4 linked regions of the Homo sapiens genome follow. The protein of the gene in region 2 interacts with the protein of the main gene of each other region in a pairwise test. Each region holds a gene or a part of one and is shown on either strand. Other genes may lie near its edges. The genes, in order: NHSL2, ABI3, WASF1 and TXN2.

The links.
Region 1: the proteins of ABI3 (region 2) and NHSL2 interact in binary tests that used the Homo sapiens proteins (3 or more experiments, as listed by UniProt).
Region 3: the proteins of ABI3 (region 2) and WASF1 interact in binary tests that used the Homo sapiens proteins (3 or more experiments, as listed by UniProt).
Region 4: the proteins of ABI3 (region 2) and TXN2 interact in binary tests that used the Homo sapiens proteins (3 or more experiments, as listed by UniProt).

Annotation. Positions count from the first base shown.
Region 1 is NC_000023.11:72,144,222-72,152,841, forward strand, and holds part of NHSL2 (NHS-like protein 2), read left to right. Parts: 3' UTR 1-8,620.
Region 2 is NC_000017.11:49,220,707-49,223,725, forward strand, and holds the end of ABI3 (ABI gene family member 3), read left to right. Parts: intron 1-1,363; coding exon of another isoform or gene 1,364-1,384; coding exon 1,385-1,519; intron 1,520-1,845; coding exon 1,846-2,009; 3' UTR 2,010-2,519; downstream 2,520-3,019. UniProt on the Homo sapiens protein: May inhibit tumor metastasis. In vitro, reduces cell motility.
Region 3 is NC_000006.12:110,105,721-110,114,340, reverse strand, and holds part of WASF1 (actin-binding protein WASF1), read left to right. Parts: intron 1-880; coding exon 881-1,015; intron 1,016-5,659; coding exon 5,660-5,813; intron 5,814-7,146; coding exon 7,147-7,264; intron 7,265-8,620.
Region 4 is NC_000022.11:36,477,866-36,487,070, reverse strand, and holds the start of TXN2 (thioredoxin, mitochondrial precursor), read left to right. Parts: upstream 1-5,430; 5' UTR 5,431-5,507; exon of another isoform or gene 5,508-5,928; intron 5,929-6,233; coding exon 6,234-6,496; intron 6,497-9,205.

The sequences.
Region 1 (8,620 bases), on a different chromosome or scaffold from region 2:
CAGGGTGATAAGTTTCAATAAACATATAGACGCCCCCCCACCCACCCCCATTAGCTAGAAAAGACCAGGACTGGGTTGCTTTAAATGAACCAAGCTTGACCAACAAACAAGACAGCCATTTGTTCACTCAGATCTAGCCGAGGTAACTCACAAGTGCACCTTGAGATCCTCCATGTGTCTGTCAACAGCGATAGGCAGGATCTGCGCCCAGCTCATGCTGCATTCTAAGAACTCTCATTTCATTTGCATATAAAATTCATTACAGGAAGTAATTAACTGAAGGAACAGCATCATCAAAGGCTCAAGGATAATGGAAAGTAAGTGCATCTTGCCCCCCACCAGTCAATTCAGATCGTGGTTTGTGGTTGGTTTGGTTTTGTTTAAAGGAAGTCCGACTCTGTTCCAAAAACCAAGAACATATAAACTAAAAGGATCTATCCAAAATCTAAAAGGCAGTCTTGCCAGTTGCTATGGCCCATAATGCACACACACACACACACACACACACACACACACACACACACAAAAGGGCTACTTTTTGCCATTTAGGTTCTGTGTTTGACCAGCTTTCAATTAACCTTGCTGGGGGAGAGCATAAGAACCTGGGTAAATGGCATACTGAAAGAGCTTCAGAATAATCATTGCGACCCCTCCCTGCCCCCACCCCCCACGAAGCTTATAGGCACTAACTATTCTTGTCAGCTCAATTTTCTAAGCAGAGCAAGAGCAGTGATTCATTTGATTTTTGTATGCCTGATTTCTGGGAGGTTGGGGAGGAAGACAAAGCACTGAGCAAAGAAAACCTGCTGACCAATGATGGAAAGTTAATTGTCTACTGTCTTCAAGAGGCAAAAAGAACAGTTGAATGAAATTGTAGCCTGCTTCACAAAGAGAGTTCCCCAGCCCCTTCCTACTTCACCCCTCACCCAATAGATTCAATGGTCAACCTCCTGGAGGATGCAGTAAGGTTCCAGAGACAAGCAGATCTCAACTTTGATAGGTCGTATTGCCCAATGAGAAGCCACCTTTTAGCTCAACTGCCCACACTCCAGCTGGACAGAGCAGCTGAAAAACCACACTAAGTACTGAGAAAACTTGGGCCTCTCACAAGAGAAGCCCTAGGCCTAGGCCCTTTGTTGTTATAGTTCTGAATCTGAGACTTCTGGAAACAGGCCAGGCCCACCAACTCCCTTGCAACCAGCACTTCGACACTTAAAATAATAAAACAGCTAGGCTCAGTTGCTTTTGAAAGTACTAGAACTACTTGGTGTGAAGTTCTTAACCAAATTCCAAATTCCAGGGATTTTGCCCAAAATAAAATCAATTCATCCCTGGCCTCAGTTTATATATGAATGCCACATTTGTCTGCTCCAGACTTAGAATTCCAAAAAACAGACATTTTCCTCTGTAGTAAATGAAGGAGCGTTTGTGCTTTTGCTTAGCAAAAATGAAAGGACACCAGGGTCTCCTTGGGAACCATTATGACTGGTTGAACGTTAAAGCTGAGTATGGGACTCACATAGTATAGGCCTTGTTACTTCTGTGGACTTTTCTGGAAGTTTCTTGTTTACTACTTCTAATGGGTTTTGCCTCTCCCCTCACCTTGCTACCTCTGGAGGTTTTCCCAAAAGATTCTGAACCTGAATTCTCAGACACCTTGATGTTTGTCAGTTACCTTTAGTCTTGTTTTCCTCTACAATACTCTATATGCCTGGAATTTTTAGAATATCTTCTACATCATCACTGTGGCCCACGCAGTGGTGTTCCCATTAGCACAAGAGGATTTGGGGCAGAAATCATATGGTCAGAGAGAACATTTAAGACCGGAAGTATTCATTTAATTTTTTAAATTAATTTTTTGTAAAGATGGGGGTTTTGCTATGTTGCCCACGCTGGTCTTGAACTCCTGAGCTCAAGCGATCCTCTCGCCTTGGCCTCCCAAAGTGCTGGGATTAAAGGAGTAAGCCACTGCACCTGGCCTCATTTAATATTTTGCAACAGGTAGACGTCCCAAATAAACAACCAAACTGTAAAATTTCTACTAATCACTAATTAACAGAACACAAAGCATCTTCCCCACTCCTAACACTCAACCTCTCTCCTACCTTTGATTATCATAACTCCACTCTCTCTCCCACCCAGGCACTTACCACAATGTTTGCTGCCTTCTGCACCTACGCTGCTGAGACTGGAGAAGAGAGGCTGAAAGCCCCTCTCAGAAAGGCTTGCAGAGAACCCACCACTACTACAATTACTAGTATAAATAATAATGATAATAATTTTTGAAGGTGGAATAGAGAAGAGATTTGAGTGAAATGAAGTTGGCCCTAGGAGCTCAGCTTCCATTTCAAGTCGTCCCTATCCTCTTTTTTCCTCCCCATTCCAGTTAGTAGCAACAGATGGCTCTGCTAGCCTGACTTTGATCTAGTCACCATCCCCAGGAGCGGAGGTTAATTGTTAACCAAGGATGCTTTGCATTTGGTGGGTAGTCAGTACATGTTTTTGAGGGTAGTTATTCTTGGTACAATAGCAAGCTTTGCTGGTGTCTCCTCTCCTTATCCTGTACTACTTGGCCTGCCTCAGCTCCTGACTGGGCCTCCCCCACCAGCCCCAACTTATTCCTCAGCCCCAACTTATCCCTCAGCCCCAAATCCCATGAACTGCATCCCTAGCACAACAACTCACCCATAAAGGAAGTGAGACAACAGGAAGCAAAATAATTAATGTTAGCTTAATGACCACAAACTGACCAGTTGATCTGGATAAATTACCTTGAACGTGCAAAGACAGAGGAGATCCTACCAGGCTCTCCTAACAAGCACTGCACCTGACATCCAGTGTAACTATCTGGACAACACAGACCCGATTGCAGTCTCTCTGTACCTGTCAGTCTGAGCAGATCTGTCCACGCACCTGCCCTCTTCCTCATCAATGAACAAGTTGGGAAAAAGATGAGTTCATGCTCAGTGCTCTGTTCCTCACTCGTTCCACCTTCCATTATCAAGTCTGTGACACAATGGTGAGCTTTCGCTTTAATATGATTTGCTAGGGCCAGGACTAGGGTGAGGTGAGCGAGGCACCTAGGGCGTAAAATTCAAAGAGGTGCCCGCTCTCAGGGCCATGCAAGTGCCTTACCCTCGTCCCAGCCCTGTGATTTGCACTCTTTAAAGTAATATCAGTTTATCTTCTTCCTATGAACAAGTATAGTCCTTCTGATTTGGGGTCGGGGGTTAACTCCCTATCTCTTGTTGCACCAAATATTTTATTGCTACCTATTTTTCCATTGCTATAAGTCTTTGTGTGCCTATACATTAAAGAATCTTTAATAGTGTTAATATCGGAAAACATAGTTGATTTCTAAGTAATATGCTCCAGGTGGCAAGTTAACACCCATTTCAGCAGGGATGCTCCCAAGGCCAGCCCTTCAACAAAAGAGTGACTGAGTTGACGGTCTGTCACCAGGATCCTCCCTCTCCTCTTTCTGCTCCATTCTCCTAAACCTTGCTTCCCAGCACCAACTCTCTTCAGTGCCTCCTACTTCCTTCTCCTCCTAAGAAAAACCTGCTCTCAGGAAAGGGATAAATTCATTTACTTTGAGATTATAAGGCTTAATGCTACCTCTTTTGAGGGTCAGTTGCATTTTAACAAGGGAAAAGCCTTAAGCCAATGGAATGAAGTTCTACTTGCAGAATGTTAGGCATCAACTAGTTGTAGAAGTGTATTTTTCACCATGGAAAGGCCAAATTCCCTGACGCCTAACTCCAGAATATAGAAAATATCTTAATCGCCTGGAATCATTTGAGTTACTAGCTGATGGTCAATTAAATTGTCCTGATATCCAATGCTATTCAATATGGTTACTACCAAGGGACTCTCAGAAATGGCTACTAAAAGCCACTGAGAAGGCCTAGATCATTCATATTGTACATTGACATTTTTACATAAATGGAATTAATACTACTTACCATTTGAGTAAAGAACACAAGGAATTGAAGAGTCTGTGAAAATATGTCCTGTTTGTGAAAGGTGAAACTGTCCAATCCATGTCCAATCAATGTCAGTCGTCCAGTATTGGTGGTGATTATTAAACTTATTGGAGGTACAACTTTACCTCCAATAAGCTTACCTTTACAAGCTTCTGCTTTCCCTGCTTCATCTCTGTTATGGGCTATCAGTCCAGCTTGGTGTGAAAATGAGACTATATCTATACCACAGCCCCCAATCCTTTCAAAGGCTTTGCATGTATTTCAGCTACAAGTGACAAGGATATTAGGGATTTAAAAGGATAAGAGAGTGGGAAAGATGTATAAGGAAGTGCCTTTGTCAAAAGGCAGCAAAAAGTATAATGATATAAACATAATATGAAATAAGCAAATTTTAGAATACTTTGAAACAGATTTATAGAGGAATACATAGTAAATAGTTATAGACACACATTTGGGGCATTTTTAATAAGGTTAGCAAGAAGAAATTTGCATGAGTAATGAGCAATGTGAAATGGGCATTATACTTTTGTTCAGTAAAGCCCAAAATCTAGGCCAATGGTTCTCAAAGTGCAGTTCCAGGAGCAGCAACAGCAGCATCCCTGGAGAGGGAGAAAGAGAGAGAGAGAGAGTGTATGTGTGTGTGTGTGTGTGTGTGTGTGTGTGTGTGTGTGTATGTGCATTCCAGTGATGTTACTCCTTCAAGCCCCTGAATCACTATAGCCACGACTCTCCAACTGATTCCAACCTTTACCATTATTCTGGCTCTCATCATAAGGACCAGTCTCTGGCCAAGAGGTGTATATTGTTATCTTGGTCAGGCATATGTTTGCTTGGTTTTAAGAAATTATCAGATTGAGGAGTCTCATGTTTTATGGGACTCCGGTGCATATGCTCGAAAAAAATTAAAAAGAACTTATCATATTGGATCAACAAATTGCTCAACCTGCAAAATCTTTGATTAGACTTAGCCAGCCCATCTGGCCTGCTTTGGGTTTAAAAAAAAAAAAAAGATTTTTTTTAACTCACAAATGGAAAAAAGGGAAAGGTGTTAAGTTTGTTTGGTATTGCCAGCTCTTAAATACCTGTCTTTACCGTGGTGGCTGTTCTCCAGTAAGGCTCTGGCAGAAGTATATTTGATTTTAAGATTTTTGCCTAAATAGTAGAATTTGATAGCAACGAACTCCAAAACAAAATCTGAACTGGAACAACTAGTTAACCCCTCTCAGCCTCTTTGTAATGCCAAGCTTTATAGACATTTATTCCTTAGGTGGTCTTGAGCTTTTTCTAACATCCAATTTTATAAAATGTTGTGCATGCAAACGCAGCATTGTGCTCATTGTACAAGTCACCTCAAACTCATTCCTTCCCCCATGTGTATCATGGCGAAGAAATATCAATATATGTATGTGCTGAGGTCTTCTGATGAATTGTAAATTACAAACCTTTTCATTCATTTTTAAATGAGATATATTTACCCTGGCTAGTGGTTAAAGTTTTATTCTTTTTATTATATTTCACTGCTACTTTTTTCTACTGACTCCAAAGCTTACTTTGGGCTATATTTCTTATTTCTAGATTGTTGTATTTATCTTATTTCTATATTTATCTGCAGTCTTGGAATGTTAGAGCTGAAAGGGACCAACCTCTCTCATTTCACACATGAGGAAGCTGAGGCCCAGAAAGGTCAAATAACTTATATACAAGGTCACACAGTGAGTCAGTGGTGGGGCCCAGCCTCAATTCCAGGTCTCCTGCCCTTGGGCCCAATCTGGTTTCATTTAAAGCACTACAATTTATAGAAGACCCACAGCTGGCTTCTACTTTTATGACACATGAATTTCCCAGGTATTTCAATGAACTAATATATATGCTTTAAGGGAAAATGTTCAAGAGTTCTTTAATTCATTAATCCAAAGACAAATTGGATTTTCAGTTTATAAACATTAGTTTCCCTCCAAATTCAATATGTGCACCCTACTTAGTACAATGGATGTTTTCCCTAAAAGTTGTGTGAAAAATGAGTTTTTTAGATATCAAGTATCATTTTTTAGAGGTAAACTTCCTATGTAAGGGAACCTTCTGGTGACTTCTTTTTGAAAAACCGAGATTCCTCTTGTCATTGTCCCATAATGTCTCTACTTTTTTTAGTGCAAACTTTTGTATTTGGTGTTTATTTAAAAGTAGGGTACAACCCAACCAATATTAGCTTTCCCAGAGTCTACTTTAGCCTTCCCTTCTTAATCTTTATGAGAAATTTTCAGACTGTTAAATGCTCATGAGATATTTAGTTGTGTTCTAGAAATTTCACCTGGCTTGATATTCTGTCAATCCCTGGGCTCAAATTCCAGCTCCATCTTATCAAACAATAACAGAATTCCCTAATCAGTACTAAGCTCCGCATGCAGTCTCTTTTCCAGAACATTCTTTGCCTAATGTTCCTTAGTGTGGCTCTCTCTTTAGTTGGGGCCTCCTTCCTTAGTACATGCATACCTTACTATTCTGTGGAATTGCAAGCCATGCATCTTTTAGAGCCACACTAGTCAAATTGATTGGCATTTCCATTTATTTTCCATTGTTCCCTTGTTTCTCCTGGACTTCCTCTCGTTTCTCTTTTCGAGGATGCTTAGAGGCTTCTCACCAGAGATTGGTGAGGTTTCCCCCATCATCTAGATGGGAGATTGACAAATTCTGTAAAGGTTAAGACAGTAACTATTTTAGGCTTTGTGGGCTACATGTGGTCTCTGTAGCACATTCTTCTTTGTTGTTGCTGTTTGTTCATTCGTTTGTTTTGCAACCTTTGGATAATGTAAACCACTCTCTTTTTTTTTGACAGAGTCTCTCTCTGTAGCCAGGCTGGAGGGCAATTGTACAATCTCGGCTCATTACAACCTCCACCTCCCGGGTTCAGGCAATTCTCCTGCCTCAGCTTCCCGAGTAGCTGGGACTATAGGTGCGTGCCACCATGCCCAGCTAATATTTTTTTTTTTTTTGTATTTTTAGTAGAGGCAGAGTTTCACCATGTTGGCCAGGATGTTCTCGATCTCCTGACCTTGTGATCCGCCCACCTCGGCCTCCCAAAGTGCTGGGATTACAGGTGTGAGCTACCGCACCCTGCCAATATAAACTATTCTTAGCTCATGGGCTATGCAAAGCCTTAGGCTGACCCCTGATCCAGACTGTCTTCTGAGACAAGCATTTCTGTGAGCTGCCCCATGTGATAACTGAGTTGTGCAGTAGCTGATGTGGTTTATTGCCTTCCCATCTACTGCATTGTCAGACCAGACTGACTGCACAGGAGCAGGTGGAGGGGGGCTGCATATGCCAACCATTACTCTTCAATAGAGTGTCCTTCATGAGCTCTCTCTCTCTCTCATTACTGACTACCTCAGTGTAGAAACCCTCATTTTTTTCCCCAGACCTATCCTTGTTACCCAATGTGCCTCTGCTTCCCTGGGTTTGGGATAAACTGGAAGGAGAGAATTTCTGAGTTCTCTTACTTATTTTGTTCCATAACTTCTCCCTCATATCTGTGGTTGGAGACTCCCACCCTTGTCCACCCTTTCCTGCCTCATACTAGTATCATGAGTTTAGGGCTGTCGTTGGAAAGTCTGGCAGCCCAGGCCATAGGATTCCAGTTCAGCCTACGATTTCCTAGGGAAATCACCAGGTTCCAAAGGCTGGTTTTTAAACCTAGAATATCCATGTATCCATTTCCTAATGCAGTTTGGACCTGTTCTAGACAGAGCACTCAGCCTTAGCAAGAAAACCAATGAGGTGCAGAAGATATTCTGTGCCCACAGTTTTTCCCTGCCTTCTGGACCCTCAGCCCCTGGGATGGGCTCCTTGGGATTGCCCATGCAACAACACAGCCACAAGACATTCAGCACACCACCTCCTCCTGTGTTTTGAATCTCTAAATGAATTCTGTTCTAAAGCTTCTTCACGTCTCTCTCCATCCTGCTCCCATCTCCACCTCTAATGCTTCTTGGGAGTCTGAAGCTCAGATTCACATTTTCACATTTTCTCGTATAAACGTTGTGGGATAAGAATGGATGATATGTATGTGTCTGTGTGAGTTTGGTTTCTCAACCTGGACTGTGAGGGCTAATTCACAAATCACACCATACATGCGTGTGTGCATGCGCGCGCGCACACACACACACACACACACACACACACACACAGTCCAGCACCCTCATCAGTTCTCTGGTTTAGGTCCAGATCTGATGGGACTGGTCAAGAAGGGGATGGTGGGGGCTCCTGAAGCATTTGCCCTTTCTTGCCTCTTGAGACCTTCTTTCCATTGGCAATTCAAAACAGGCTGACATACAGAGGGCTAGCACTCTAATTTGATGTGGACTCAGCCACTCAGACCTAGGTCTCAGGCTGCAGCTTATCCTAGCTCAGCAAATTGCTTCTTAGAATCTTTAGCTTGATTTCTGTCATTTGAGCCCAGGGATCTACCCACTTACTGAAATCTAAATTTTAAAAAATCAGTGATGAAAGTAATTTTCAGGATTTCCCTATTTAAAAGCATCCATGAAACAGTTCCTTTATGCCTTCTGTTTAGGATTTCCAGAATTAGGAAGGGAAACCAGGCTTGTGCCTTGGATCCAAAAGCAGCAAAAATACTA
Region 2 (3,019 bases):
GGTGGCGCAAGCCTGTAATACCAGCTACTCGGGAGGCTGAGGCAGGAGAATCGCTTGAACCTGGGAGGCGGAGTTTGCAGTGAGCCGAGATCGCGCCATTGCACTCCAGCCTGGGCAACAAGAGCGAAACTCCATCTCAAAATAATAATAATAATAATAATAATAATAATAATAATAATAATAATAAACTTAATCCTAAGGGCCAGGCGGGGTGGCTCACGGCCGTAATCCCGGCACTTTGGGGGGCTGTGGAGGGCGGATCACTTGAGGTCAGGAGTTTGAGACCAACCTGGCCAACATGACTAAAAATACAAAAATTAGCCTGGCGTGGTGGTGCGTGCCTGTAATTCCAGCTACTCAGGAGGCTGAGGCAGGAGGATCACTTGAACCCAGGAGGCAGAGGCTGCAGTGAGCCGAGATCACCACACTGCACTCCAGCCTGGGTGACAGAGGGAGATTCCCTCTCAAAAAAATAAAATAAAGGCCGGGTGTGGTGGCTCACGCCTGTAATCCCAGCACTTTGGGAGGCTGAGGTGGGCGGATCACGAGGTCAGGAGATCGAGACCATCCTGGCTAACATGGTGAAACCCTGTCTCTACTAAAAATACAAAAAAATTAGCCGGGCGTGGTGGCGGGCGCCTGTAGTCCCAGCTACTCGGGAGGCTGAGGCAGGAGAATGGCGTGAACCCGGGAGGTGGGGCTTGCAGTGAGCCGAGATCGTGCCACTGCAATCCAGCCTGGGCGACACAGCGAGACTCGGTCTCAAAAAAAAATAAAACAAAATAAACTTAATCCTGAGAGGGTCTTTACCACTCTCCGTTAACAGATGAAGCCACTGACGCTGAGGTTCAGTGACTTGCCCAAGAGCCACCCAGCTAATAAGAGGCAGAGTCTGACCGTCCTCTACTGCTGGATCTTTCAGGGTTTACTGAGCACTTAACTATGTGCTAGCAGCACTGTGGGAAGACCAGGACAGGAGAGGGCTGGAGGAAGATTGCATGAAATGGGTGCATTCTTTTTTTCTTTTGAGATGGAGTCTCACTCTGTCATCCAGGCTGGATGGAGTGTGTTGGCAAGATCTCAGCTCACTGCAACCTCCACCTCCTGGGTTAAGCCATTCTCCTGCCTCAGTCTCCCGAGTAGCTGGAATTACAGGCGTGTGCCACCATGCCCGGCTAATTTTTGTATTTTTAGTAGAGACAGGGTTTCACCATGTTGGCCAGGCTGGTCTCGAACTCCTGGCCTCAGGTGATCTGCCCGCCTTGGCCTCCCAACGTGCCTCGCTGAGATGGGTGGATTCTGGGGTCCAGCTCTTGAGCAGTTCCCTGACACACTGAAGGAGCTTCCTGTGCCACACTTACAGCCTTTCTGCTTTTCCCCCAAGACGAAGAGCTGCCCCTGCCACTGGACCTGCCTCCTCCTCCACCCCTGGATGGAGATGAATTGGGGCTGCCTCCACCCCCACCAGGATTTGGGCCTGATGAGCCCAGCTGGGTGCCTGCCTCATACTTGGAGAAAGGTACCTGACTTCTGGGACTGAGGGGCACCGGATCCCACTTCCTCTGTTGCCCTGATCCCCATTCTCCTCCCTCTGCAAAGGTGTGAATCTATCCCCCGGGCCCCCCACACAATTTTTCTGACGAACTGACAGAACTGGGGAGAGGGCAGCTGGCCTGGTATTAAATATTAACTAAGCTGGGGAGGGGTCCTGAAGGCTTGCAAGAAGGCCCCCAAGATGGCCCCTAGAGTCTAGTACTTGAGACCGTGCATCCCCATGGTGGTGGGGGGTGAGGGGGAGAGGGCAAGAGGCATTATCTCACGGCACCCTCTTCTCTTGCCCTGCAGTGGTGACACTGTACCCATACACCAGCCAGAAGGACAATGAGCTCTCCTTCTCTGAGGGCACTGTCATCTGTGTCACTCGCCGCTACTCCGATGGCTGGTGCGAGGGCGTCAGCTCAGAGGGGACTGGATTCTTCCCTGGGAACTATGTGGAGCCCAGCTGCTGACAGCCCAGGGCTCTCTGGGCAGCTGATGTCTGCACTGAGTGGGTTTCATGAGCCCCAAGCCAAAACCAGCTCCAGTCACAGCTGGACTGGGTCTGCCCACCTCTTGGGCTGTGAGCTGTGTTCTGTCCTTCCTCCCATCGGAGGGAGAAGGGGTCCTGGGGAGAGAGAATTTATCCAGAGGCCTGCTGCAGATGGGGAAGAGCTGGAAACCAAGAAGTTTGTCAACAGAGGACCCCTACTCCATGCAGGACAGGGTCTCCTGCTGCAAGTCCCAACTTTGAATAAAACAGATGATGTCCTGTGACTGCCCCACAGAGATAAGGGGCCAGGAGGGATTGAAAGGCATCCCAGTTCTAAGGCTGCTGCTAATTACAGCCCCCAACCTCCAACCCACCAGCTGACCTAGAAGCAGCATCTTCCCATTTCCTCAGTACCCACAAAGTGCAGCCCACATTGGACCCCAGACACCCCTCTGCAGCCATTGACTGCAACTTGTTCTTTTGCCCATTGCTTGCTGTGTGTGTGGTGTGTTCATATGTGGCTGGGCACTTGCCCAAGAGTGGGAACGATCTCCATGACTTAAGCGGGGCTCTCCGAGAGCACCTCACTGTCAACTCTGAGACTGTCGCGAGAGAGATCTCAGTCATTTCTTCCCCCTTCACCTCCTTTATAGTTGTAAAACACCAGAGGAAGGAGGGGCTTGGGTTTCGCTGGTTCTGCTTAAAAACATGGCTTTCTGTTCCATGGGGGGTGGGGGGGATGCGTGGAAGGCCCAGCCCGCGAGGGTGACTTTGGTGAAGTCCCTGGTCTCTTGCTGCATAGACGAGGCTGGGATGCAAGGAGACACCGTCACTCTCTGCGAGGTTACTGGCTGTCCGGACCCGAGCCGGACGGTGCGCTACCTCGTACCACCACCAGGAGGCGATTGTTCCTCTGGCTTTTCCTTTGGGGGTGCTAGAAGGGAGTGCGGGGGTCGGGAGGCAAGAGAGTGTGGACAGCACAGAAATAGT
Region 3 (8,620 bases), on a different chromosome or scaffold from region 2:
ATATCAAGCAATTCAACTTTATCTTGTAGTGTTATGACTTTCTTGTACTTGAGAGTACTTCCAGCATCACTGGTGGCACTTTGAATGAGTCTCACAATGTATTCAAGGTTTACAGTATTGCATAAAACATGATGGAAAATACACAAGAACCATGAGAGATTACTTCCTACTCTTATATGCAATTTAGTGGAGAGAGAACTGCTCAAACAGCATTTTAAGTGGATAGTAACAACACTAGAGCTAACTGCAGTATCAACAGAGGGTGGCTATAAAATTGTTACAGTAATACAGTATTACACTTAAATTTATTGTTATGATTTAGTACTATTAGGTTGGCAAAAACTGCAATTACATTTGCACCAACCTAATATATCTTTCCATTTCTTTATATTTCTCTTGACTGTGAATGGCACTATGTATGTTTTTGTTTTGTGTGTAAATTTTGATAAATTTTAACTTTTTATAATTTCTGTATATTTTGTGGTAGTAAATGATAAAATAGTCTAGTATTTACATAGATTTTATGCATTCATATCTTTAAAATATACTTTAAAATTTTTAGTATTTTTAGGCTATGTGGTTCATCTGCAAGTTTTTTCAAATTGTCTCAAATCTCCAAAATTTTCAATGTATTTATTGAAAAAAATCCACATGTAAGTGGACTATTACAGTTAAACGATTTTGTTCAAGGGTCAACTGTAATTCCAAATAAATTCCAAATTCAACAGGTCACCAGTTGTAATATTACATTGTTCATTATTTATCTCTGATCACAAAGTATCTGAGGGCAAATATCATGCTAGATTTCTACTGCTTGCAAAGATAAAAACTCAGTGCTCTGGATGTTAAATTTTATGATATATGTGTCATTTTTGCTTAGGTAAATATGCTGAAGATATATTTGGAGAATTATTCAATGAAGCACATAGTTTTTCCTTCAGAGTCAACTCATTGCAAGAACGTGTGGACCGTTTATCTGTTAGTGTTACACAGCTTGATCCAAAGGAAGAAGAATGTAAGCTTATTAATATTGTATTTTCTTCTACGTATATATTTTAAGTTAGATGAGATGAATGATATACTTAACAGTATTAATCATGAATTTATTACAGATCATACCCATGTCCTTTGGTGTACATATTGTAATAAATCAGTGAATTATCTAAAAATGCCATCAGTATGATTCTCCGGGCTTTTCTTTTCTACTCTGTTTTAAATCTCTTCTTTTTGTACACTAAACAGCTCCTAATTTTTTTGCATAAAGAAGTCATTTTAACCAGACATTTTCCTCCATTCTCTTCATTATCTTTCTCTTTTCATTTCTCCCTTATAATTTATTTGTATACTTTTGTCTTAGAAATAAAAATTATTAGAAAATTACCTGAAATCTTTAGGTTTGATTCTACAAGAATGTAACTGGTTTTTTTTTTGTTTTTTTTTTTTTTTGAGACAGACACTCTGTCACTAGGCTGGAGTGCAGTGGCGCAATCTCGGCTCACTGCAACCTCCACCTCCCAGGTTCAAGCAATTCTCCTGCCTCAGCCTCCTGAGTAGCTGGGATTACAGGTGTCTGCCACCACGCCTGGCTAATTTTTTTATTTTTAGTAGAGATGGGGTTTCACCATGTTGGTCCGGCTGGTCTCGAACTCCTGACCTTGTGATCTGCCCACCTCGGCCTCCCAAAGTGTTGGGATTATAGGCATGAGCCACTACACCTGGCTATGTAACTGCTTTTAATATGCTTTTGTATGTGCATATTGCTAAAGTCTTATTAGTTATTTAACTGAATGCAACTTCCTACTTTAAATGAACATTTCAAAAACAAATTGCCAGTATGTAGGGTGTAAACATTCTATACCAAGATATTAAATCAGGAATAATCAGATAGGCTAAAATAATTGTAGAAACTTCGGTGGTAAAATCATGTTTTATGCCTTGATAGAATACATTGAATGCCGACGTTTCCCAAATGCATCTTTTTGTTTGTTTCACAAAAAGAAATGCAATACTAAGAACATAATTTGCACTTACCTACCACAGAGAATTGTTTAATGGAATTTCTTACACTCTCTTCAAAATATTTTTGTTGCATTAAATAGTATAAACACAAATTATATGATAGATCTAATTTTTAGTATAAATGCAAATTATATAATAGATCTAAACTTTAACAATAAAAATACTAAAGGATGTCAGTGGAAAGAACAAAAATATAATGTAATGATAGATGTCTTAGTGATGGAACCAGCTACTTTTGAAATAATCCAATGTGTAAATAAGGAGAGGCAAATACTTGGCATACTAGATTTGTACCACTTGTAAAATGTAAACTCAGAGCTCTGGATACAAGAAGAAAAGGAAATAATACTTAAAAAATAGCTTTATTAAGATATATTTCACAACCTACGTATACCTTGCAGTTCACCCATTTAAAGTTGAAGTGTACAATTCAGTGTTTTTTAGTATATTCAAGTTATGCAACCGTCACCACAATCAATTTTAGAGTATTTGTATCACTCCAGAAAGAAGCCCTGTACTCATTAGCAGTCACTCTGTTTCCCCTTCAGCTCAACCCCTAGCAATCACTGATCTTTCTGTCTGTATGGATTTGCCTCTATGGATTTGTCTGTATGGATCTGTCTGTATGGATATTTCATATGAATGAATAGTACAGTATGTGGTCTTTTGTGACTGGCTTCTTTTAGCATAATGTTTTCAAGGTTCATTCATATAGCATGTATTTATATCTCCCTGATGGCTAATGATGTTGAGTATGTTTTCATGTGCTTACAGGCCATTTGAATATCTCCTTTGGAGAAATGTCTATTTAATTCCTTAGCCCATTTATAATTTGTATTATTCGTGTTTTTATTTTTGACTTGTTGGAATTCTGTGTATATTCTGGATCTAAATCCTTTATCAAATATATGATTTGCAAATATTTTCTCCCCTTCTTTAGGTTGTCTTTCTTGGTGGTATCCTTTGAAACATGTGCATGTATCAATACATTAATTACACCTCATGGAATTCTTGAAATAAAATCATTGTTAGTGGTGAAAAATATTTTATGGTCATGCTTTCAAATACATAATTTATAGCCAAAATTTGTTTTTCAGATAACTCAACTGCTTATCACTTAAATATAAATTTATGCCATCAAATAATAGAGAAATACACAGGCAGTTCTCATATGTAACAGAAATAAAAATCAACATTTAGTTTCAAAATATTGTTACATTTTAACAAATGTCTTAGAGCCACCATTAAACTTGAAAGTGAAAATACAGATAACAGTAAATAAATTAAGATGTTTGTGTTAAAAAACAAATTTTAATATGTCAACAGCTATACTGTCAGAATTATACCTAGTTTCCTTTAAAATTTTGTGGAGCAGTGGGGGAAGAATTCAGAATCTAAAAGCTGAACTACTTAATTTGAAATTGTTTTGGAGAGGTTGTATTGAAGGAGTTTTCAGTTATTTAACCTAGGTTTTTTAATTCAGTGGGAATTAAAAAAAAAACATCATGTGTACAGTACTAAATAGCACAGTGTGGTATCAGTTTTTTTAACCGTTTTGTAGTAACTAAAAACTATCAATTTTGAAAATATTTTTTAAATGAATTTTAAACAAAGACTTGTACAATTATATTTAAGTCAATTATGTTTATAAGCATTATGCTAATTTATTGCTTTATAATTCTATTTTATTAATATCAGATGTTATTGTTGGCAAGTGGAAGGAGCTTCACCACAATAGTCTGTTAATAATAAGACAAACGATAAATGAGAGGAGTTGAAGATAGAAAAGTACATCATGCTTATTAGTTTACATGTTTCTTACATCCTTTACCAAGGAAGTTTGGCGAGATTAAACACTAGGTTTCATCTTAATTACATACTTATTGATTAATAAGTGGGGCAGGAGAGTGGCAAGAATTGATCCACTTTGACTGCAGAAAACACAACCCACTTCTGGCAGGAGCCTGAGAACAGCGTGTGGTATTGTGGCAAAAAGATTAGCCTCAAAGGTAGACAGATCTGACTTTTCTGTTCTGGCTCTGCTGTTTATTAACTGTTTAACCTCAGGTCAGTTATATACTATTTCCTAGCCTTAGCTTTCTTATATTTCACAATGGAGTAATAATTCCTGTCTTACTGAATTGTAAAGATTAAATGAAATGAAATTTAGTGAAACCATCTAGCACATATAGTATGTACTCATTAAATACTGTATCTCCAGTGCCACTTTTTAGTGATAGTGGGGAAAAACTTTTTGCTTCTCTGAATTTTATTTTAGTATTTATAAGTGTGTTACAGGTCATGCAGCAGTGGAATTGCTAGAAATGGAATTATGGTGCCACCATTGCAGAGCCAGCCTATTGTACCTTCTGTGCCATTGGTCCCATGTTCATGTTGAGTGAATTTACTTGAGGGGATGACAGGAATATTATTTTAAGGAGAAGGATAACTTAAGAATTGTTGGCTGGATGTGGTGGCTCACACCTGTAATCCCATCACTTTGGGAGGCTGAGGCGGGCAGATCATGAGGTCAGGAGTTCAAGACCAGCCTGGCCAACATAGTGAACCCTCATCTCTACTAAAAATTTAAAAAAAAAAAAAAATTAGTCGGCCATGGTGGCAGGTGCCTGTAGTCCCAGCTACTTGGGAAGCTGAGGCAGGAGAATTGCTTGAACCCGGGAGGAAGAGGTTGCAGTGAGCCGAGATCGTGCCACTGCACTCCAGCCTGGGTGACACAGCGAGACTCTGTCTCAAAAAAAAAAAAAAAAAGAATTGTTAGGATTGTTATACTGACCTTGCTATGTTATAGGGCATTTGTCTGTATACTTAAGGCCATATTAAATATCAAGAAATTACCTTATTTTTTAATATCGGGATATCAGTGTAAGAATTAAGAATGCAGCATTTTTGTATGTTTTTTATTTTAACATGCTGCACAGTTCAAAATAAATGAAGTTGTTTTTAAATCATGTATGTGATGGGGCTGTGCTAGTGACTGGGAATACTAATGTACAAGATAGTCTGAGTCTTCAAGAGCTTATAGTTAGGTAGAAATCCTTATAGTACAGATAAAAGATAAGTGAAAAAGAGAATAATATAGATCACCTAATACTTAAAAGTATTTCCTTTACAGTAAAGTTTGTTTTAACTTGAGAGTACACATACAATATTTATAGTATATGTAGCATAGAGGTTAACAGCGTGTTTAGCCCACAGTGCCACTAATAAGTAATTCCTTTCAGAGTTACTGGTGTAAGCTAAAAAAAGGAATAAAGGGAGATGGAAAAGAAGATTATAGGAGAAGAGAACCTAAGTTGGTGGGGGCCCATGATGGCAGGTAGAAGAAAGAAAAAGGTATATTTGGTTGAAATGTAGATATGTTTCAGGTGTCATTAGGGCCCTCTGAGCCTTCAAAATCAAAGGTTAATTAAAACCTATCTGATTGGGAAAATTAGGCGCAGAATGATATGGGTAAATATAATGATAGAACATTTAAAATATGGTTTCTGATTCATAAGCCACTAAGGTCACAACCTCTTGAGCCATGCTGACTTTTAGACAAATAAAGTATGTGAATTTGCCCTTATGTTAAATCATCTTAGTAAAATAAAATAAAATGAATTCTTGATTTTTGTTTTAGTGTCTTTGCAAGATATAACAATGAGGAAAGCTTTCCGAAGTTCTACAATTCAAGACCAGCAGCTTTTCGATCGCAAGACTTTGCCTATTCCATTACAGGAGACGTACGATGTTTGTGAACAGCCTCCACCTCTCAATATACTCACTCCTTATAGGTAGGTAGGTTAATAAATAGTAGCCCTATTATTTATCTCAGACTTCAGATTGAAATGCTAAATCCCCAAACATTCTTTATTTCATTGGGGTTCTAGCCAACACAGAGAGCCCTCTCTGTCCACCACCTTTGGAAAACCTTTGCTTTTATTCATTGGATGAATTCTTAAGATTGTGGCATACAAAAGACAAGACCTATTTAAAAGAGTTGTTTTTACAAGTTTAGAAAAGCCACTGGTAAACTTATTAATGTAAAGAGATAAGGAGTTATTATTGTCCTTTTAATTTAATTTTTAATCAAATGGAAAAAGCTCAAAATTCTGTCCTACTAACAAAATAAACATAATTTTTGCTTGTTTTGTCTACTCTTTTTTTTTTTTTTTTTTTTTTTTGAGGCGGAGTCTCACTTTGTCACCTAGGCTTACTGCAAGCTCTGCCTCCCAGGTTCATGTCATTTTCCTGCCTCAGCCTACCGAGTAGCTGGGACTACAGGCGCCTGCCACCAAGCCCGGCTAAATTTTTATATTTTTAGTAGAGATGGGGTTTCACTGTATTAGCCAGGATGGTCTCGATCTGACCTCGTGATCCACCCGCCTTGGCCTCTCAAAGTGCTGGGATTACAGGCGTGAGCCACTGCGCCCGGCCTGTTTCGTCTACTCTTGATTTGATTTGTATACATTAACTTCTTACATAATGAATAGGTAGTACCTTTATAAAATGCTTTTTACCACTTAGAATAAAATCTGGAATTATTTAGCCTTTCTTTGAAGTTCTTTCACATGGTTTGTTAAATGGGTAATGTACAACACAACCTGAATAAAATAGTATTCAGAGAGTTATTTGAAATTGTAAGTCAGTGTGCAGATAATTAGATATAAATGTGACTGTTAGAATGACTATTACATGATATCTTTTGGATTTAGTAAGATAATAAATAAATCATAGTATTGGCAGAAACTGCAAAATTTCTGTCTTCTAGATGATGTTACTGTCTTTTCAGGCTTTTATCTTTGGCAGAGCTATTTGTAATTATTGGAATTGCCCAAAGGACTTTTTAGAAAATTTGGGATTCAGCAGAAATTAGGGATGAAAATTGCCCAGCTATACTTTAAATTGTTAGTACTAACTTGGAAAAGCATCTGCTTTACCACTTTTCTTTGTTTCCTCATATTTGTGAGAAATTTTCTATTGGTGCAATATTCAGTTTTATTTTGGCACTATTTTAACATGCTGTATTTTATTAATGTAAGAGGATAAACATTTTAGTGAAATTATTTCTATTCTGATTGCCTAAGTCTTACTAATGTGTGTTTTAATTGATATTTTATATTTCAGAGATGATGGTAAAGAAGGTCTGAAGTTTTATACCAATCCTTCGTATTTCTTTGATCTATGGAAAGAAAAAATGTTGCAAGATACAGAGGATAAGAGGAAGGAAAAGAGGAAGCAGAAGGTATTACAAGAGATTAAAAAATTGAGGTTAATTTTTGTATATTTGTGTTTTGTTGCATATATTGAACTTCATTAATCTTGTATTTTGACAGTTTTATTTTATTGGGTCCATATAGTTAAATACTGAAGTCTTTATAACTCCACAGAAAGAACACAGTCTGATGGGGAGCAGATGAGCAATTAGATTATTAGAGTAGGGCATAATAAGTGCCATAGCAGAGGTATGCATAAAGGGTTTAGATAACACAAAATAGCATCTGCTTTAGCTAGCAGGCAGGGTAAACCCTTCCCACAAAGCTTATAATGAATCTTGAAGAACAGATAGGAGTTAGGTGTACCAAGGAAGAGAGGAACATTTTGGTAAGGAGCAATGGAATCTTGTACAGATATTGGTAACGTAGATTAAGCTAGTATTTTGTTGCTACAGAGCACATCCTAAACATTTCTCTCCTAAATGTTTTGGAGAGGTTATTATATTCACATGAAATTTCTGTTATTGTCATTTTCCACTTTCTAATAAAATTCACTTGTATCTGCTTTATATTTCATGTTAATGATAACTGAAAACACAGAAGGATGAAGCAAAGTTAGATTTAGGTTGAATTATGAAGGAGGCAAATTCTGTCTTTATCATCTCTCTGGTTCTCCTGTAGCTATCTCTGCTTTCCCTAATCCCTGTATAATGCCATTGTATTGTCTTCTTTGCTAGATGGTAACCCAGTGTTCTAGCTAACATTTGCAAATTGGTGACTGGCAAGCCAGATTATGCCTGTAGGGAGTGTTTTGTTTGCCAAACACAGAGGTTTTTAAATTTTGGAACTAGAGTGCCTGAGATGGACATGTCTGTCTAGCTCACCTCATGCCCCATCTTACACCCGACTGGCTTCATTCATGTATGTTATCCGCTTGGCCGCTTTGGGCGTTTGAATTTGTTACACTTACTCTAGCCCTTTCTGTACTTTCTCCCCCAGTTTTGAATCACTTTTTGTTTTATTGTTTAAAGACAATGTTTTCTGTTGAGTGATATAGTTATTATCGGTTAATTAGATAATTGGATTTTTTTCTAATGTGTTGGCTAGCTAATCAGTTACTTCCCAGATAACATAACCTTAGTAAATTGTTACGTTTTGATTAGGGGCAGACAATGCCATTCATCGTAGAAATTTCAAACTAATGCCTGTGGAGCAAGGGTTCATGAGTCTTTTTTCATCTGAAAGACTTTCTGACCTCAAATTGTATTCTTTAGGCATACTGTTTTGTGTCTGGTGCATCAGTTCAAATTAGGGGTTAAACAAAACATGGCAGGAAACTGGGATTACAGCAGACTGGCTAAGATTTAACTGAATGTACAAGTAAA
Region 4 (9,205 bases), on a different chromosome or scaffold from region 2:
ACGTCCCACTGCCTTGTTGCGGTGGCCACAGGGGTAAGGAATCGAGACCAACCAGTGTGACGAATAAACCTATACTCTCAGCAAGGCAGAAAGAAACGGGCTGGCGACCTGGGGGAAAGGATCCTCATGTACCACAGCGACCAAGTAAGTGTGCAGAGACCAAGCTAAGAAACATCGCAGGGGTGACAAAGTATTTCCTTGGTGGTCAGGATATTCTGGGGGTTGAAAGTGTGCATGAATGCAAGGAGCCTCCAGCAGGTGGGGCTAAAGGATAGGCGAGACATCTCCAACAGGGGAGATTGAGCTTAACCAGGACCCAAGATGGGAAATGCCCCAAGTAAGGTAAGAGATAAAAAGGAGAAAGCTAGCAACAGTAATATTCCCCCAGGCCTAATGTTAAAATGTTAGAAGGATAATGAAAGGACCAAAAACAAAAGCAGCTGCTGTCCCAGACCCTTCTCCTATCTCTGATGTCCCCTTTCTTACAACCCTGCCTCTTGAGAATCGTCCCAAGAGCCCACTCACTACCGACCTAAGTACCTTTCCCTTAAAGGACTTCAACGTGAGATAGAGCAATGTAAAAAAGATATTCAGAATTTCCCTTTCCCCTCTTCTCGGGGGAAGAAAGAGACATGATCCATAGAGCTGCTATGGGAGCCTAGGAACACGAACACCCTCCTGGCCAAAACGTTCCTACAGCAGATCAAAAAACTCCCACCCAAGACCCCCAGTGGGACAATAACAACGCAGCCCACCGAGAAAATATGCAGGACCTTAAGGAATTGATAATAAAGGGGATTAAAGCATCAGTACCCCGAGGCTGGGCGCAGTGGCTCACGCCTGTAATCCCAGCACTTTGGGAGGCCGAGGCAGGCAGATCACAAGGTCAGGAGATCGAGACCATCCTGGCCAACACAGTGAAACCCCGTCTCTACTAAAAAATACAAAAAAATTAGCTGGGCATAGTGGCAGGCGCCTTTAGTCCCAGCTACTCAGGAGGCTGAGGCAGGAGAATGGCGTGAACCCAGAAGGCGGAGCTTGCAGTGAGCCGAGATCACGCCACTGCACTCCAGCACTCTAGCCTGAGCAACAGAGCAAGGCTCCATCTCAAAAAAAAAAAAAAAATTGGTACCCCGAACTCAGTATCTTACCCGAATATTTGATATACAGCAAGGGAAAGATGAAGGGCCTATAGAATTTTTAGATAGATTAAAGGAACAAATGAGAAAATACACTGGTCTAGGTCTCAAGGATCCTCTTGGGCAGGGAATGTTAAAACTTCATTTTGTCACTAACAGTTGGCCAGATATTAACAAGAAATTACAAAAGATAGAGAACTGGAAAGATAAACCTATAGAAGAGCTTCTAAGAGAAGCCCAAAAGGTATATATAAGAAAAGATGATGAAAAACAAAAGCAGAAGGCAAAAATTCTGCTGTCTACCATACAACAAAGTACCCAGGGGGCCAGAACCTATAAAGAACCTAGACTGAGGGCTGGGCGCGGCGGCTCACGCCTGTAATCCCAGCACTTTGGGAGGCCAAGGCGAGCGGATCACGAGGTCAGGAGACCAAGACCATCCTGGCTAACACGGTGAAACCCCGTCTCTACTAAAAAAAAGCAGCCGGGCATGGTGGTGGGCGCCTGTAGTCCCAGCTACTCGGGAGGCTGAGGCAGGAGAATGGCGTGAACCCAGGAGGCGGAGGTTGCAGTGAGCCAAGATCGCGCCACTACACTCCAGCCTGGGCGACAGAGCGAGACTCCGTCTCAAAAAAAAAAAAAAAAAAAAAAAAAGAACCTAGACCCCCACTCTCCAGGCAATATATAGAGTATGAAAGAGTAAAGCCAGGAGACTCAAAAGTAAAGAAAAAAAAAACTTAGAGGAGAGAGAAAGACTGACAGAACAGACAGAGTCAAAGAGAGAGAGACAGGCAAAAAGGGAAAGAGAGAGGCAGAGAGAAAGGCAAAGGGAGAGAGTCAAAGAGGAAGAGAGAGGCAGAGAGAGAGGCAAAGAGAAAGAGTGAGAGAGAAAAAGAGGCAGAGAGGGAGAGGCAAAGGGAGAGAAAGAGGACAAAATAAATGTTTCAGATTAAAAATAGGTCACTTCAAAAGAAAATGTCCCAAATGGGAAAAAGAACAAAAGTCATATATAAAAGCAAATCAGCTAATATTAAATTTCTGTTTATTCCAGAGGCAGGAACAAACCTATTAGAGAGATTTAATGCTAAAATTTGGCTTAGGCCTCTATATTAATCAGGGAAGATTCCTCCCCTCCCTAAACTTGCTCCCCACCACAGACAAAGAACTCATTCATCCCAAGGTATGGTCAAAAGACGAGAATCGAGGAAAGTTACAGATTACTCAGTTTCATGTTAAATTACAAACCCCTGGGGAAGTAGTAAAGAGAAAGCAATGTATCCTATTCCTTTCAAAGCCGAGGTAAATTTAAAACCTATAATTGATAATTGAAGGTCTTCTCCGTGATGGATTTCTTAAACCCTGTATGTCTCCCTATAACATTCCAATACTGCCTGTAAAGACGCCAGACAGGTCATACCGGTTAGTGCAAGACCTTAGAGCTATTTTTTTTTTTTTTTTTTTTGAGACAGAGTCTTGCTCTTTCGCCCAGGCCAGAGTGCAGTGGCACTATCTCGGCTCACTGCAAGCTCCGCCTCCCGGGTTCACGCCATTCTCCTGCCCAGCCTCCCGAGTAGCTGGGGCTACAGGCGTGTACCACCACGCTTGGCTAATTTTTGTATTTTTAGTAGAGATGGGGTTTCACCATGTTGGCCAGGCTGGTCTCGAACTCCTGACCTCAAGTGAACTGCCCGCCTTGGCCTCCCAAAGTGCTGGGATTACAGGTGTGAGCCACCACGCCTGGCACCATGTTTGTTTTTTTAAAAAGCAGATCACCACCCACTAAATTAATTTTGCAAACCCACTGACGTCCATATCCTGCAGTTTGAAAAACACTGCAATAAATATTGGTAGGAGGTAGAAGTTTTACCCTTAGCCCAGGCTGCCAGTCCTGGCTTCCTTCCCTTTGCCTCTCAGCTGTGCCCTGAGCCTGCTTGTGACTAAGCCAGACCCAGGCCAGCTCAGCTCTAGCTGGACAGAGGAGCCACCATGTAGCTGAGAGCCCTTTTGTAGCGCGCCGAGAGCTCAGCCTTCTCTGTGTCTCTCAGGCTTTCCCTGCAGGAGTCATCAGGCAGCAATGATGTGGATTCTGTCTCTACTGCAACCCTCAGCCCAGCTATGAGAAAGGCATTCTTCCCATTGCTCAGATGAGAAGCCTGAGGCCGATCAGGGTGAAGTGACTATGGCATAAGGACAAACAGGACTGGTCCGCCTGTGAAATTCAGAATGTGAATTAGGCAGGAAAATTGGCTCTCTAGAAAATACTGTGGAAGTGCTGAATAGGATTGATAGGTGGCTGTGGAAAAGAAAGTGCTAGAGACACAGAAAACCGATACAAAAATGGGCAGGGCGGCCAGGCGCGGTGGCTCACGCCTGTTATCCCAGCACTTTGGGAAGCCGAGGCGAGCGATAACTTAAGGTCAGGAGTTCGAGACCAGCCTGGCCAACATGGTGAAATATAAAATTTCTGTACCAAAAATATAAAAAATTAGCCAGGTGTGGTGGTGCTCGCCTGTAATCCCAAGTACTTGGGGGGCTGAGGCAGGAGAATCCCTTGAACCCTGGAGGTGGAGGTTGCGGTGAGCCAAGATCATGCCACTGCACTCCAGCCTAGCTACAGAGCAAGACTCCGTCTCAAAAAAAAAAAAAAAAAGGCTGGGTGCAGTGGCTCACGCCTGTAATTCCAGCACTTTGGGAGGCCCAGGTGGGCAGATCATGAGGTCAATAGATCGAGACCATCCTAGCCAACATGGTGAAACTCCGTCTCTACTAAAAATATAAAAATTAGCTAGGCGTGGTGAGGCACGCCTGTAGTCCCAGCTACTGGGGAGGCAGAGGGAGAAGAATCCCTTGAACCCAGGAGGCAGAGGTTGCAGTGAGCCGAGATCGCGCCACTGCACTCCAGCCTGGGCAACAAGAGCGAGACTCTGTCTCAAAAAAAAAAAAAAAAAAAAAAAAAACTTTGATCAACAATTTGGAAACTGCCTGTTCTTTTAAAAACGCTCTTTCAGCTGCTGCTAATCCGAGTGTATATTCAGGACAACTTGAATCTCTGCTCCGAGTTGCAGTCTTCGAACTTGACCCAAAAAAACTCCCTGCTTAAATTAGGCTCGCCTCAGTTTTCATTTGTTTTCCTTTAGGCGGACACAGACGAGGGCCACTTAAAGGATGGCCCCTAAACTCCCGGTTGAGTTCTTTTACATATAAAGGGCATCATGCCTTTGAGGAGCTTAGCTTTACATATTAAATGGAGAAACAGAACCTGTCAACATCTGTAGGAAGTGGACAGCGCCAGTTATAAACAGGAGGCCAGGCAAGGTGGCTCACGCCTGTAATCCCAGCACTTTGGGAGGCTGAAGCGGGCGGATCACTTGAGCTCAGGAGTTCCAGACCAGCCTGGCCAACATGGCGAAACTCCGTCTCTACTAAAAATACAAAAATCAGCCCGGCGTGGTGGCGCGCGCCTGTAATCCCAGCTACCTGGGAGGCTGAGGCAGGAAAATCACTTGAACCCGGGATTTGGATGTTGCAGTGAGCGGAGATCACGCCACTGCACTGTAGCCTGGGAGACAGAGCGAGACTCTGTCATTAATAAATAAATATATGTAAATAAAATAAAGCAACAAGAGTTTGCAAAATCCAAAACCACGGGGACTTCTCAACTGCCTTTTCTCCCTTAAGTACCCTCCATTGCTACCCCTGCTCCATCACCTCCTCTTCCGGTCCCTCCTCTAGGGCCCGCCCACCCCTTCCGTTTCCGCCCCGCCCCGCCCCCGCCTTCGCCCAGACCAGGGCCCGCCCGCCTCTTCCAATCCGTTCCCCGACGGCCTGCCCATTGCTTCCGGTCCGTAGCTGAGGCCCCGCCCCTTCAACTGTGCCTCAGCCCGCCATTCCCATTGGCGGAAAATCCCAGACGCCCCTCAAATTGGAGAGGGACAGATGGGCGCTGTGGCTCACGCCCGTAATCACAACCCTCTGAGAAGCCGAGGCGGGCGGATCACGAGGTCAAAAGATCGAGACCGTCCTGGCCAACGTGGTGAAACCCCGTCTCTACTAAAAATAAAAAAATTAGCTGGGCGTGGTGGCGCGCGCCTCTAGTCGGGAGGCTGAGGCAGGAGAATCGCTTGAACCCGGAAGGCGGAGGTTGCAGTGAGCCGAGATCGCGCCACTGCACCCCAGCCTGGCAACAGAGCGAGACTCTGGCTCAAAAAAAAAAAAAAAAAAAAAAAAAATTGGAGAGGGACGCTCTTCCGCCTGCCTGTACCCGGAAGTGACGTTATGTACGTCCCCCCCCGAGGAAGTGACGACAGGCGTGCCCTTGACAGGCAGGGAGGGCTAGGCTGTGCATCCCTCCGCTCGCATTGCAGGGAGGTAGGAGCCCTGTGGGGGTGGCTCGAGGTGGTGTCGCGGCTGAGGCATGCCGCGAGCGCGTTCCTGCGCAGGCTGGCGGCCGGGCGGGCGGGGGGATCTAGCTCGCCGGAGAGCCAGGGTCCCTGGTGATGTCCGATTTTTCCCAGTTCCCTCCACACATGTCCCTTCTTTATTGGTTCCCTCCAGTACATGTCTCTTCGTTTTTGGTTCCTCTCACACTCTTAGTTCCTCCTTGAATTGTTGCGTTTCATCTTTTCAGACGACCCTGGGTTCCAGTGTTGGCTGTCATTTAATAGCGGGGTTACTTTGGGCATGTCACTTAACTTACTTGAGCCTCGTATTCCTTCCCTTACTCGCAGTGTGGGCAGTACAATAGCAACTTCCTGGAAGTTGCTGTAGGAAGACCAATAATGTGTGTAAGGTACTTGGTCCTTACATACATTATTAAATCTGTTGGTTTCTTCCTCCCATTCTTCCGTTATAATCTAAATCCCGATTTCTTTTTGGTTGTGAAGCCAGTTTTCCTGTCCTTCTGGTTTGCCTAGCTGTTCCTTCCCTTTGATTCTCATTGCTTCCTCACTTCCACGCTACAAATCTTACATATGATTTCCTTGCATTTTGCTTCCAACTCTGCCTCTTCCTGAGCCCTGAGTACTCCCCAAATCTTTTTCTAGTGTGTCGACTTCCTTTTGTGTGCCCCAGTTCTTCTGCCTCTTTCCCTCACAGATGGCTCAGCGACTTCTTCTGAGGAGGTTCCTGGCCTCTGTCATCTCCAGGAAGCCCTCTCAGGGTCAGTGGCCACCCCTCACTTCCAGAGCCCTGCAGACCCCACAATGCAGTCCTGGTGGCCTGACTGTAACACCCAACCCAGCCCGGACAATATACACCACGAGGATCTCCTTGACAACCTTTAATATCCAGGATGGACCTGACTTTCAAGACCGAGTGGTCAACAGTGAGACACCAGTGGTTGTGGATTTCCACGCACAGTGAGTATTGGGGGTCCACAGAAGACTAGGGTCCTACTTGTTCAAGTATTTATTGAATGCCTGCTGTGTCCCACGGCCATGTTCTATGCTGCTCATATGTAGACTCAATATACAGACTGGTCAGGCCCAGTCCCTGCCCTCAAGGGGAATGCAGTCTGGTGGAAGACAGACAAGTGAACAGTCTGCAAAGCTGACTGTTAGTGCTGGGAAACACATGTTCTGTTTCTCAATCCCCAGAAAGCTCAGCGTCATCTTTAGCATGGACCAGAGTTGGAAAAATATGACTGTCACCTTGCTTTTGGTGTATACCAGTTCCTGGCCCTGCAGATAAGCTGATGTTAACATCCTGCCATGAAAACCGCAAGAAGGGCTGGCAAAAAGTTATCAGTGTCGGCCGGGTGCGGTGGCTCATGCCTGTAATCCCAGCACTTTGGGAGGCCAAGGCGGGCAGATCACCTGAGGTCAGGAGTTCAAGACCAGCCTGGCCAACATGGTGATACCCTGTCTCTATTAAAAATACAAAATTAGCTAGGCGTGGTGGTGTGTGCCTGTAATCCCAGCTACTCGGGAGGCTGAGGCAGGAGAATCACTTGAACCTAAGAGGTAGTGTTTGTAGTGAGCTGAAGATCGCGCCATTACACTCCAGCCTGGGCAAAAAGAGTGAAATTCCATCTCAAAAAAAAAAAAAAAAAGTTATCGGTGTCACTACCGTGGTGCCCAAGCATACAGGGCATAGGAAGGAGTTTCCTTTCAGTGCTATCTGAGTTTGCTTTAGAGATATTTAAGTCCCTCTGGCCTTCTGAATTTTAGCCTGGGCTTTTTCATTTCTAGATCTTTGGGGCCTGGCTAGACACCCAACTACACAAAAGCTGGACAAAGCCCTCTGAATGAGGCATCCTGGGAGAAACCAGTGTAGCATAAGTTAAAAATTCAGGGGCCTTCAGGTCGGACGCAGTGGCTCACACCTGTAATCCCAGCACTTTCAGAGGCCGAGGCAGGTGGATTACCTGAGGTCAGGAGTTTGAGACCTGCCCAGCCAACATAGTGAAACCCCATCTCTACCAAAAATACAAAAATTAATCGGGCGTGGTGGCGGGCACCTGTAATCCCAGCTACCCAAGAGGCTGAGGCAGGAGAATCGCTTGAACCTGGGAGGTGGAGGTTGCAGTGAGCTGAGATCGCGCCATTGCACTCCAGCCTGGGTGACAGAGGGAAACTCCATCTCAAAAAAAAAAAAAAAGAAAAAGAAATTGAAGGGCCTTCTGGTCAGGTCTCTGACAGATTGTTTCGCTGGCTTTCCAGTTGTTTCTCTGACTCACCCTGTGGCCTTGGGCAGGCCACTTGATATCTTTGTGCTCCCTTTCTTCACTTGTAATAGGAGATAAGGTCTTGCACACTGGGTTTTTCAGTGTTATGAGTTGTTTTTGTTTTTCTTCTTTTAGAGACAAGGTCTCACTCTGTCACCCAGGCTAGAATGTAGAGTGCAGTGGTGCGATCACGGCTCACTGCAGTCTCTACCTCCTGATCTCAAGCAATCCTCCCACCTTGGCCTCCCAAAGTGCTAGGATTACAGGCATGAACCACTGCGCCAGGCCTGAGGGTTTTTTTTCCTTTTTTGTTTTTGAGACAGAGTCTCATTCTGTCACCCAGGCTGGACTGCAGTGGTTCAGTCAGCTCACTGCAACCTCCACCTCCCGAGTTAAAACAATTTTCCTGCCTCAGCCTCCCAAGTAGTTGGGACTACCACCCAGATAATTTTTTTGTATTTTTAGTAGAGACGGGGTTTCACCATATTGGCCAGGCTAGTCTCTCAAACTCCTGACCACAGGTGATTCTCTCCCGCCTTGGCCTCCCAGAGTGCTAGGATTACAGGTGTGAGCCATTATGCCCGGCCTATTTTTCAGCATTTAAAACCGTCAGGCCTGGCTGGGTGCGGTGTGCACCACCACACCTGCTACTCAGGAGGCTGAGGCAGGAGAATTGCTTGAACCCGGGAGGCGGAAGTTGCAGTGAGCCGAGATCGCGCCATTGCACTCCAGCCTGGGCAACAGAGTGAGACTCCATCTCAAAAATAAATAAGTAAGTGCTGAGAATAAAATAGGAGTTGTCAGCCAGGGGTTTGTGAAAGGTGGAACTGTCTTGGCCTCCTGGTGTAGTGAGCATTCCAGAGAGGCCTTCCGAAATGAACAATAAATGGGATAATGCCTCATTTTGTTCAGTAAGGAAGTGGGGTGGTGTGAGTTGTTCATTCAGTGCCAGGCACTTTCCTTGGTGCCACATACATAGAGATGACAGCACCAGGCCTGTCCTGGATGAGCTTCCCCAGCGAGAGGGGAATACCTATGATCAGGGCAGTGATAATGGTCAACTCAGGGGCTGTGGGATCAGAGTAGCCTGTGGGTGAAATAAAACACTTTCTCTTTTTTTTTTTTTTTTTTTTTTGAGACAGAGTCTCTGTCGCCCAGGCTGGAGTGCAGTGGCACAATCTCAGCTCACTTCAACCTCTGCCTCCCAGGTTAAAGTGATTCTCCTGCCTCAGCCTTCCTAGAAGCTGGGATTACAGGCGCACACCACCACTCCTGGCTAATCTTTGTATTTTTAGTAGAGACGAGGTTTTACCATGTTGGCCAGGCTGATCTTGAACTCCTGACCTCAGGTGATCCGCCTGCCTCGGCCTCCCAAAGTGCTGGAATTATAGGCGTGGGTCAC